3 linked regions of the Homo sapiens genome follow. The protein of the gene in region 1 interacts with the protein of each later gene in a pairwise test. Each region holds a gene or a part of one and is shown in the gene's direction. Other genes may lie near its edges. The genes, in order: RPRD1A, ZNF76 and PCNT.

Region 1 (3,725 bases):
AGACACACAGCACTGATTGTTGCATTTACAAACTTTTAGCTAGACACAGAGTGCTGATTGGTGTGTTTACAAACCTCTAGCTAGGCACAGAGCACTGATTGGTGCGTTTACAAACCTTGAGCTAGACACAGAGTGGTGATTGGTGCGTTTACAATCCTTTAGCTAGACAGAAAAGTTTTCCAAGTCCCCACCTGACCCAGAAGCCCAGCTGGCTTCACCTCTCAATGGCACTCGCCGCGGGACTTTGCGGCACCTAGCTTGGGCACTCTAGCAGCCCAGAGGGAGCTCGTCCCCCATCAAGCCCAGCAGGCACCCACCCGGAACCGCGCGTAGCCCAGGCTCCTGCCGGCGCCTCTCTCTCTACACCTCCCTGAGAGCAGATGGAGCCGGCTCCGGCCTCTGCCAGCCGCAGAGAGGGGCTCCCACAGTGCAGCAGCGGGCTGAAGGGCTCCTTGAGCACGGCCAGAGCAGACGCCGAGGCCGAGGAGGCGCCGAGAGCGAGCAAGGGCTGCTAGGACGTTGTCACCTCTCAATAGGAGAAAGCTATCTAATATTTAATGTATTTAAGAAAATGGTGCAAATGTGGTAAAATTGTAAGATGTGCTTTTAGCAAGGTTTGTGATGTTTCCATATGTTTAAGTGTTTCATAAGTGGAAAACGTTAAAGCATATAAAAAGATGCTTTAGGAGGAGGGTGGTAGTGATGATAGTGTTGATAGTAACGGTGATGCTGATGAACATACCGCTGCCGCTTTAATCCTCATATTAGCCTGGGCTACTCTGCCAAGGGTTTCCTTTTCTTGACAGATGACTGCTTTTGCAGGGTGTAGCCTTTGTGTCCTTCCCCTTTCCTGCAGTTTTGCTCATCAACTTCAGGATTCTCATCTCCTGTAGTTTAATGATAATGGCAATCAGTTACTGAGTACCAGACATTCTTTTAGTTATTTTACCATATCTTGAATCACATTATTTCTGCAGAATAATTATGAAAGGAATCGATCAATCTTGAAAGTATATTACAACAAACTAAAGAAAATTAGTTGAACATTTTGTGTTAAGCTAGGCATTCTTTAGTTTCTCAAAGTGTGTAAAGACAAAAATGTGAGAGTGGGAGAAGCTACTGTTTAAAATAAAAGAATGAGCTGGGTACTGTGGCTCATGCCTGTAATCCCAGCACTTTAGGAGGCTGAGGGAAGTGGATTGCCAGAGCTCAGGTGTTCGAGACCAGCGTGGTCAACATGGCAAAACCCTGTCTCTACAGAAAATACCAAAATTAGCTGGGCATGATGGCGCAGGCCTAAGGAGGCTGAGGTTGGGGGGTCACTTGAGCCCAAGAGGTTTAGGCTGCAGTGAGCCAAGTGCGCCACTGCACTCCAACCTGGGCGACAGAGCAAGGCCCTGTCTCAGAAAACAAACAAACAAAAAAATATAAGAATGAATAAGTAAAATTATATATGTTAGATAATGGTAGCCATTCAGTTATGAAGGTTTCCCTTCTTTTCCTACCTTCCTTATCTTTGTCTCCTTTAAAGAAAGAGTTTCTGTTTGGAGGGATAAACTTCAAGGCCTTTGTGAAGACCAAAATGGCATACAATTTTCCTGATAAATGCAGTAAAGTGTAACCAAAAATGTAAGTGACCATTTTGTTACTTCTTTATTAAGATGTAATTCACATACCACACCTTTTATCCATTCAAAGTATACTATTCAGTGGTTTTTGATATGTTTATAGAATTGTAAAGCTACCACCAGTTTTAGAACATTTTTATTACCCAGAAAGAAACTCCATGCCATTTAGCTGTTGTCCCCAGTCCCCCATCTCTCCCAACCCTAGGCAACTGCTAATTTACTTTGCCTCTATAGATTGGACTATTTTTACCATTTCATATGAATAGAATTATATAGTATGTGGTCTTTTGTGTGTTTTCCATCCATGCTATAACATGGATGAGCCTGGAAAACATGTTAATTAAAAGAAGCCAGTTGCAAAAGACCACTTACTGTCCTTCAGTCTTTTCTATGGCCGAATAGAATATTGTATGAATTTAGCCATTCATCAGTTGATAGACGTTCGAGTTGTTTCCGCTTTTTGGCTATTATAAATAATGCTGCTGTGAGCACTCCTGTACAAGCTTTTTTTTTTTGTGGATATGTTTTCATCTTGGATACTTACTGAGGAGTGGAATTTCTGGGTCATATGGGAATCCTATGTTCAACCTTTTGAGGATCCACCAGGCTATTTTCCACAGTGGGTACATGTTTTTTTTTTTTTTTTTTTTTTTTTGAGACGGAGTCTCGCTCTGTCGCCCAGGCCGGACTGCGGACTGCAGTGGCGCAATCTCGGCTCACTGCAAGCTCCGCTTCCCGGGTTCACGCCATTCTCCTGCCTCAGCCTCCGGAGTAGCTGGGACTACAGGCGCCCGCCACCGCGCCCGGCTAATTTTTTGTATTTTTAGTAGAGACGGGGTTTCACCTTGTTAGCCAGGATGGTCTCGATCTCCTGACCTCATGATCCACCCGCCTCGGCCTCCCAAAGTGCTGGGATTACAGGCGTGAGCCACCGCGCCCGGCCATGTTTTTAAAATACATTCCTACAAGCAGTGTATGAGGGTCCAGTTTTTCTACATCCTTGCTAATATTTGTTATCTTTTTGATTACAGCTGTCCTAGTGGGTATGAAGTGGTATCTCATGATTTTGATATGCATTTCCCAGATGACTAATGACACTGAGCCTATTTTCATGTACTTATTGGCCATTTGGATGTTGTCTGGAGAAATGTCTATTCTGCCTATTTTAAAATTTGTCTTTTTATGATTGAGTTGTAAGTGTTCCCAATGTATTCTAGGTACAAGTATTGTATTAGATTCATACCACAAATATTTTCTTCCATTCAGTGGGTTGTCTTTTTACTTTCTTAATAGTGTCCTTTGAAGGTGACTGTTTTAAACTGTAAATGTCTCAGTCAATACTAGGCTAAATTTTAAAACTTAATATACATCATTAATTTATATTCATTTCTGTAGAAATATTGACCATGAACATACCTGAACTTAGAAACCAACACTAACATTTGGGCTCTTTTCTACACACACTCGCTGAAAGATCTCTATAAGAGCTGTACAAAACAAGATAGATAGGAGGAAATTCTTTGTAGTTGGTGAAGGTCACTGCCTTCCCTAGTCTAGTGATTGTATCCTTTGTACCAGCCTCTTTTATGTTATATTGGTGTCTTAACAAAACTGTAAGTGCCTCAACCCCTTAAAGTATGTTTACTCACCCTGTATTTATTGATTGTGTATTACAATGGTAAAGAAAACAAAGGGAAAACAGTTTATCCCTGCCCTCAGAATTTATAGTCTTGTGGTAAGGGCAACCAATAAACAAAAAATTTTAAATATAAATTTCGTGTTTAGTTCTTTGAAGGAGGAAATCTTTAGTTAGAGGGAAATCATCTCTGCAAGGTGACGTTTAATAAAAGACCTCTTTGAACAAGTTGCGGGGGTAGGGGGGCTTGGGCCTGCAGCCACTGGGAATATGTGAAAGTGCTGAGGTGATACATAGCTTTGGATGCAAAGAGCCAAACCTGGAAATGGTCAGCCTTTGAATGCCTGTTAACTTTGTTTCCTAAATTTTTTTTTTTTTATGAGACAGTGTCTCACTATGTTGCCGAGGCTGCTCTTGAACTCTTGGGCTCAGGTGATCTTCCTGCCTCAGCCTCCCGAGTA
Region 2 (2,876 bases), on another chromosome or scaffold:
TGCCTGTCACCCATCCCTTCCACCACTATGACATGAAACTAATAAGCTGACCTTGTCTGGGAGAGCAGGTATATCTTCCTTAGGGACTTTCAGACAACCCTCCACTGACACTGCCAGCTCATCTTCCCCTCCTGTTGGCAGGTCAGCCTGTCCCCGGAAGACCTGCAGGCCCTGGGGAGTGCCATCAGTATGGTCACCCAGCACGGCAGCACCACCCTCACCATCCCCAGTCCTGATGCCGACCTGGCCACATCTGGCACACATACAGTCACCATGGTCAGCGCCGATGGCACCCAGACGCAGCCCGTATGACCAGGCGGTTTGCTTGGGGTTTCTTATTTTGTCATTCCTTTCCATGGGGCGGGCATTAAAGTGCAGCCTAAACTAGTCAAGTCTTCTTACCAGGACAAAGATTCCCCACAAAAGAAGGGGTCTTCCCCACAGTTCCTGGGCCATGAGCAGCTCTTACCTTTAAAAGCAGTTGAATGGAGGTCAAGAGACACTTTCTAAATCTCAATTCAACCCTGATTTGTTGTGCAACCTTAGGCAAATCACTTTTCCATGGACTTCTGTCCATTTTCAAGTGAGGGGATTAAAATATCTCTGGAATTTTTTACAGCTCTGTCCTTCTGTGATTCAAAATCCCTAAATTAAATTGGGCTCTAAGTTGGGAGGAAACCCAGCCTTACTTAGCTCTGAGCCTCAGGCTAATTAATCTGACCCATACGGTTTTATCCATTCTCTTCTGGGTTGTTCCCAGCACCTTAATTGGAGGGATGTTTATTTGGATTGTGGGGAGGGAGAGTATACTGCAGGTGGAATGGAAGACCTCCTTTTGTCTTTCAGGTCACAATCATTACCTCTGGGGCTGTGGTGGCTGAGGACTCAAGTGTAGCATCTCTTCGTCATCAACAGGTGGCACTGTTGGCCACAGCCAACGGAACGCACATTGCAGTGCAGGTGAGTAGAGATCTGGGAGGAAAGGGGATCCCACGGCCAGAGAAGTCAACAAGGAATAAAGGGGAATTAGATGAGGATCTTGAAGAGAAGGGCATCTGACTCAAAAAGAGCCCATTTCAGAGGACAGATCCCTTTCCTCCTGCATCCATGCATCTGTCTCAGGCTCGCTCTTGGCTGAGGCAGAATGTTGAAGCCTCTTCTGGCCTTCAGGATAACTCCGATGGCAGTCCACCTGTGGTCCAAGCCCTTCATCATTTTGTGTCTCTGTTTCTTCATCTGGAAATGAAGGAGGCTGACGTAGATGATCACCACGGTTCTCTTCAGCCAGTCCTTCCTCCGTGAGCAAGTGGGTCTCTCTGACCCTGGCTATTCCAGGGCCCCCTGGCCATGCCTAGCCTAATAGGACTCTTCATCCGTGAACTTCATGTTTATTGGAGCCCTACTAAGTGCTCAGCGTGTGGCACTGGGTAGATGGGGGAGAGTCAAAAAAAAAAGTAGGCCACATATTACTAACACTGGAATCTAGCAGGGAGGGTCTCACTGTCTCCTTCCTTCTGCACCCCCTTCCCCACAGCTGGAGGAACAGCAGACCTTAGAGGAGGCCATCAATGTGGCCACTGCGGCCATGCAGCAAGGGGCTGTGACCCTGGAGACAACAGTGTCGGAGAGTGGCTGCTGAGTCCAAGAGGGCTGGGTCCCACACCATGCTGGAGGAAGTGCCATCTGCATGGCCACTCTTGCCCCCAAGGGCCCAGGCTGTGGCTGACACATAGAAGGTGGCCACATAGGTCTCTGGGGTGAGAAGACAGCAAGAAAACTGCCTAACTGAAGGGAATGGGGGCCCTGCTCAAGAAGGGGGCCAGGCAGCTGGAATCAGGGGAGTGCATCATCCTCGGGAGCTGACAACAGCCAGGCTACACCAGGGCACCCGCCTCTCAAAATCAGCTGGGCGCCCACTCTCCTCCTAAAGAACACCCTTCTGGCCCTCAGTCTGTTCCCCTTCTCAGGTAGAGATTGGGGCTGCTATGGGGACTGGCCCTGTAGGGTTGAGCCACAGACAGCTCTTCAGCCCAGTAGCAGTGGAGCAGGCCCTGTCCTGCCCTCCCAGCAATAACCACCTCCCTGGAGGCCAGCTGAGATGCCTGGCTACTTGGCACCAGGGACTTCCTGACACCACAGTCAATTAATTCCTCAGGGGCCTGTGGCTGAAGAAAAGGTGCCCAGCCCCCACCACTCCTCAGCTGCCCCCCAACCTCTCTATGGCAGAGAGGCAGGGAGTGGCCCTGTACATAGACTGCTGGGGATTGGGTTTGATTTGTTTTGTTTTTTTTAATTCCATTTTGATAATTTTTTTCCTGCTCTGGGTGGTGGTGGCACATGGATGAATGAGTATTTAATAAAAGTTCCAAATTTCCACCTGGGTCCCTCCATCCTTTCAGCTCTAGGCCCGGGTGGCAGGGTTGGTCAAATCAGGCTATCAGCCCTGTCTCCCTGGCACAAACCCCACTCAGCCTTGGTGCCAGAGTGGTGGGGCTGGCCTGCCAGGGACACAGGTGGGAAGGAAGCCCAGTATAAGATAAAGCCCTGAGGAGCTGCTGGTGGCTTCTTGCCCACAGCTGAGCAGGTGGGCTCCAGGGTAGCCAAACAGGACCAGGGTGACCGCTGCTTCCAGGCTCTGGCTGAATCTCAGGCCTCATGTGATTGAGCTGGGGGAACTCTTTTCCTGCCTTTTCTTGTGAAACGTAGTCAGAGCCCCTCCAACCCAGCCACCCCCAAATCACACAGTCAGCTTCTCCAAGAGGGCAAAGCCCCAGGTTAGAGTGAGGCTGGGGGACACCTTTGCCAAGGTTACTGAGATTCAAGGAGCAGAGTCTGATGCCTCTGGAGCTGAAGTCTTGGCTCTATTACCCAGCTCT
Region 3 (3,725 bases), on another chromosome or scaffold:
ACACTCACCTGTGTGGCCTTGGGAGCAGAGGGTGGTGACAGGGCATCATCTAGTCAAGCCCCTGAGTGTTGCCATGGTTGTCAGCTGATAGGACTGAGCAGAAAGGACCCTGGAGACAGGCAGCGCTGGGTGGGGCTGGCACGGAGGCCTCACTCTTGGGCCTGATGTGGGCAAGAGGGGCCTGGGTTGGGCTCTGAGTGCTGGCAGATTCTTGGGAGCTCATGCTAGAGTTCAGGAATGTCTCGTAGGTTTCTACATTTAATTTAGCTTCTTCGGGAGTTTTTATGTAGATGCTCAGGTCATCTGTGGGTAAGTAACGATTTTTTGTTTCTTGCCCGTGTTCTCTCACGTGCTGTGCCGTCAGCTGTGTGGGCAGATGCCATTCCCTGCTCTTAGTTTTGGGGGCAGGAGCTGGTCTCGTACCATCGCATGTGGGGTCAGGCGCCCTTGGTCAGCTTGGGCAAGTGCCCTCTGTTCCTAGTTTTGGATTCCGTCAAGGGGAACGGCCTTGCAGTTCAGCCCACGGCCCTTGTCCCGGCGCCCATGCCCTTTGTGCTCTCTGGGGCTGGGGGCCGGCGCTGTGCACATGCTCGTGAGGGGCATGGGTGGGGCTGGCGCTGTGCAAGCGCTTGTCAGGGGCATGGGCGGGGGGTGCCGGCGCTGTGCGAGCGCTCGTGAGAGGCATGGGGGGGCTGGCGCTGTGCACGTGCTCGTGAGGGGCACGGGCAGGGGGTGCCGGCGCTGTGCGAGCGCTCGTGAGGGGCATGGGGGGGCTGGCGCTGTGCACGTGCTCGTGAGGGGCACAGGGGGGCCGGCACTGTGCGATCGCTCGTGAGGGGCATGGGGGTGGTGGGCCGGTGCTGTCTGAGTGCTCGTGAGGGGCACTGGTCTGTTTTCTGTTGTGCCTTTTTGGTCTTGGTGCTGGGTAGCGCCAGCCCCACGGGGTGCGGGAAGTATTTGGGAAGTAGCCCCTCCGCCCTCCGTTGTCTAGAATTGGGGTTATTTCTTCCTTAAGTTTTGGGAGAATTTTCCAGTAAAGCCACCTGGGCCTGGAGTTCCCTCTGTTGGAGGCAGTTTAGGGTGTGAGTGGGGGTGAGGTGGCATTTTTAGGATGGCCCCAGGGCTATATCACTCCTGGACTCTGTGTCTCCCGGCCAGGTGGGTGGGCCCTGGAAGGAAATGGGCCCAGAGGGCAGAATTGAGCATCCTGGTTCCACCCGCAGTGAAAGCTTCTAGTCCACAGAACCTCCTTTCTTCCCGAAGCACATACACCTCACGCCCCCACGAGTCTGTCTCTAACCTGGTGTCACTTGTGCAGCACGAGGAGCTCATGGGGGCCTGTTACTGTTCTTTTGTCTTTCTCAGTTGAACTGCTGGCTTATAAAGTAGAGCAGGAGAAGTGCATTGCTGGTGACTTGCAGAAGACGCTGAGTGAAGAGCAAGAGAAGGCAAACAGCGTGCAGAAGCTCCTGGCGGCGGAGCAGACTGTAGTGCGAGATTTGAAGTCCGACCTCTGTGAGAGCAGGCAGAAGAGCGAACAGCTGTCCCGGTCCCTCTGCGAGGTGCAGCAGGAGGTCCTCCAGCTGAGGTGCGCCTGATCCCCCTTCCTGGGACACTGGCGGGAGTCCCCCCGTTGTGCCATGTTTTCTTGGTGATGAAGGGAGACAGAACCTCTGGTGGGCCGCAGTTGGGCAGCCCCAGGGGCACCGCGCCCTGCTGTCCCTGGGTTGATAATCCTGTGGTGGGGGGTGAAGCACACGTGTGGGACCTGGCAGGGCTCTGCCTCCCCTCCTGGAGCTCCCAGCCCCCGGGAACACACTCTGGCCCACGTGGTCAGATTGTTCTGCGATGTCTCCACGCAGATCCATGCTGAGCAGTAAGGAGAACGAGCTGAAGGCCGCGCTTCAGGAGCTGGAGAGTGAGCAGGGGAAGGGGCGTGCCCTGCAGAGCCAGCTGGAGGAGGAGCAGCTGCGGCACCTGCAGAGGGAGAGCCAGAGTGCCAAGGCCCTGGAGGTAACAGGGTGTCAGGGCAAGGCAGCCGGCATGGGCTGTGTGCACTGGAAGCCTGAAGCCATGCTCCTCTTTCATCCTTCTTTTCCTGTTCTTCATGGCAGTGCACCCAGTTGACAGCAGTGTGACGTAGCAGGATAGGGCTGTGTTTGCAGGTAAAATTGCACCTTGGTGTAGTGGCAGCCACCACAGGGCGAAGAGTGCGATGACCCGTGGTGGCACGATACCCCTGCTCGGAGCCCCCCCCCGTCCCTGAGCACTTGCTGTGGAGATGGACACAGCCTCCTCGCTGGCATCCAGACAGAGCACAGCCTCAGAGGTCTGTGCACAAGGCAGGCTGGTGGTGGGGCCTCTGCTTTGCATGGCGGAGGCCCAGCAGGCCTGCTGTGGCTTCTGAGCAAGTCTGTGCCAGTTCCATGGGTTATGGCTTTCAACAGCATGGAAGTGGTGGTTCCTAGCAAGCTGGGTGTGTATCTCTGAGCCTCTGGTGGAGTGATTTTCTGAAGAGGGGGCAGGAGCCTCTGGTGGAGTGATTTTCTGAAGAGGGGGCAGGAGCCTCTGGTGGAGTGATTTTCTGGAGAGGGGGCGGGCAGGGGACATCTCTGAATCATTTTCTGGAGAGGGACAGACTGGGAACATCTCTGAACCCAGGACTCAACACCATTTCCGAAAAAAGTATGTCATCTCCGCAGTCTGGGTTTTTTGTTACTTGATGAACTAACAAAAAAATGTTGTCCCTACATGTGGCTAATAGGGTGCATTTCAAAAGGTAGAATTGCTGGGCTAAAGTATATAAACAAATGTGGACAGGAAAACCATGTAGACACTTTTCCTCTTGATTCAGTGTCTCCCATCGTATGTGTTTGCTGTCTAGGAGCTGCGGGCGTCTTTGGAGACACAGCGTGCTCAGAGCAGTCGACTCTGCGTGGCACTGAAACACGAGCAGACGGCCAAGGACAACCTGCAGAAGGAGCTGCGTATCGAGCACTCACGCTGCGAGGCCTTGCTGGCTCAGGAGCGGAGCCAGCTCTCTGAGCTCCAGAAGGACCTTGCGGCTGAGAAGAGCCGCACCCTGGAGCTGTCAGAGGCCTTGCGGCACGAGCGGCTCCTGACCGAGCAGCTGAGCCAGAGGACACAGGAGGCTTGCGTGCACCAGGACACACAGGCCCATCACGCTCTGCTGCAGAAGCTGAAGGAGGAGAAGTCCCGGGTGGTGGACTTGCAAGCGATGCTTGAAAAGGTGCAGCAGCAAGCCCTGCATTCTCAGCAGCAGCTTGAGGCTGAGGCTCAGAAGCACTGTGAGGCGCTCAGGAGAGAGAAGGAGGTAAGTGCCACACTGAAGTCGACGGTGGAAGCCCTGCACACCCAAAAACGAGAGCTGAGATGCTCTCTGGAGAGAGAGAGGGAGAAACCAGCGTGGTTGCAGGCAGAATTAGAGCAGTCACACCCACGGTTGAAAGAGCAAGAAGGACGCAAGGCTGCGAGGAGGAGCGCGGAGGCCAGGCAGAGCCCAGCGGCTGCGGAGCAGTGGAGGAAGTGGCAGAGAGACAAGGAGAAGCTGGTGAGAGCCGCCTGCCGGCGGAGCGTCCACACCTAAAAACGATAAGCAATTGGAGTTAGGATGGTTCACGTGGGGGACGCGAGATTTATGTCTGGCCCTCTGACCTGGTCTGCTCTGGTCTGTGTGCCCTGACGCTGGCACCACACTGCTGTTA

The links.
Region 2: the proteins of RPRD1A (region 1) and ZNF76 interact in binary tests that used the Homo sapiens proteins (3 or more experiments, as listed by UniProt).
Region 3: the proteins of RPRD1A (region 1) and PCNT interact in a two-hybrid assay, tested with the Homo sapiens proteins (one large-scale study listed by BioGRID and IntAct).

The regions. Positions count from the first base shown.
Region 1 is NC_000018.10:36,060,882-36,064,606, reverse strand, and holds part of RPRD1A (regulation of nuclear pre-mRNA domain-containing protein 1A), read left to right. Parts: intron 1-3,725. UniProt on the Homo sapiens protein: Interacts with phosphorylated C-terminal heptapeptide repeat domain (CTD) of the largest RNA polymerase II subunit POLR2A, and participates in dephosphorylation of the CTD by RPAP2.
Region 2 is NC_000006.12:35,293,610-35,296,485, forward strand, and holds the end of ZNF76 (zinc finger protein 76), read left to right. Parts: intron 1-141; coding exon 142-306; coding exon of another isoform or gene 307-312; exon of another isoform or gene 313-319; intron 320-846; coding exon 847-960; intron 961-1,170; coding exon of another isoform or gene 1,171-1,302; exon of another isoform or gene 1,303-1,306; intron 1,307-1,534; coding exon 1,535-1,639; 3' UTR 1,640-2,376; downstream 2,377-2,876. UniProt on the Homo sapiens protein: May be involved in transcriptional regulation.
Region 3 is NC_000021.9:46,428,645-46,432,369, forward strand, and holds part of PCNT (pericentrin), read left to right. Parts: intron 1-1,365; coding exon 1,366-1,588; intron 1,589-1,862; coding exon 1,863-2,013; intron 2,014-2,884; coding exon 2,885-3,571; intron 3,572-3,725. UniProt on the Homo sapiens protein: Integral component of the filamentous matrix of the centrosome involved in the initial establishment of organized microtubule arrays in both mitosis and meiosis. Plays a role, together with DISC1, in the microtubule network formation.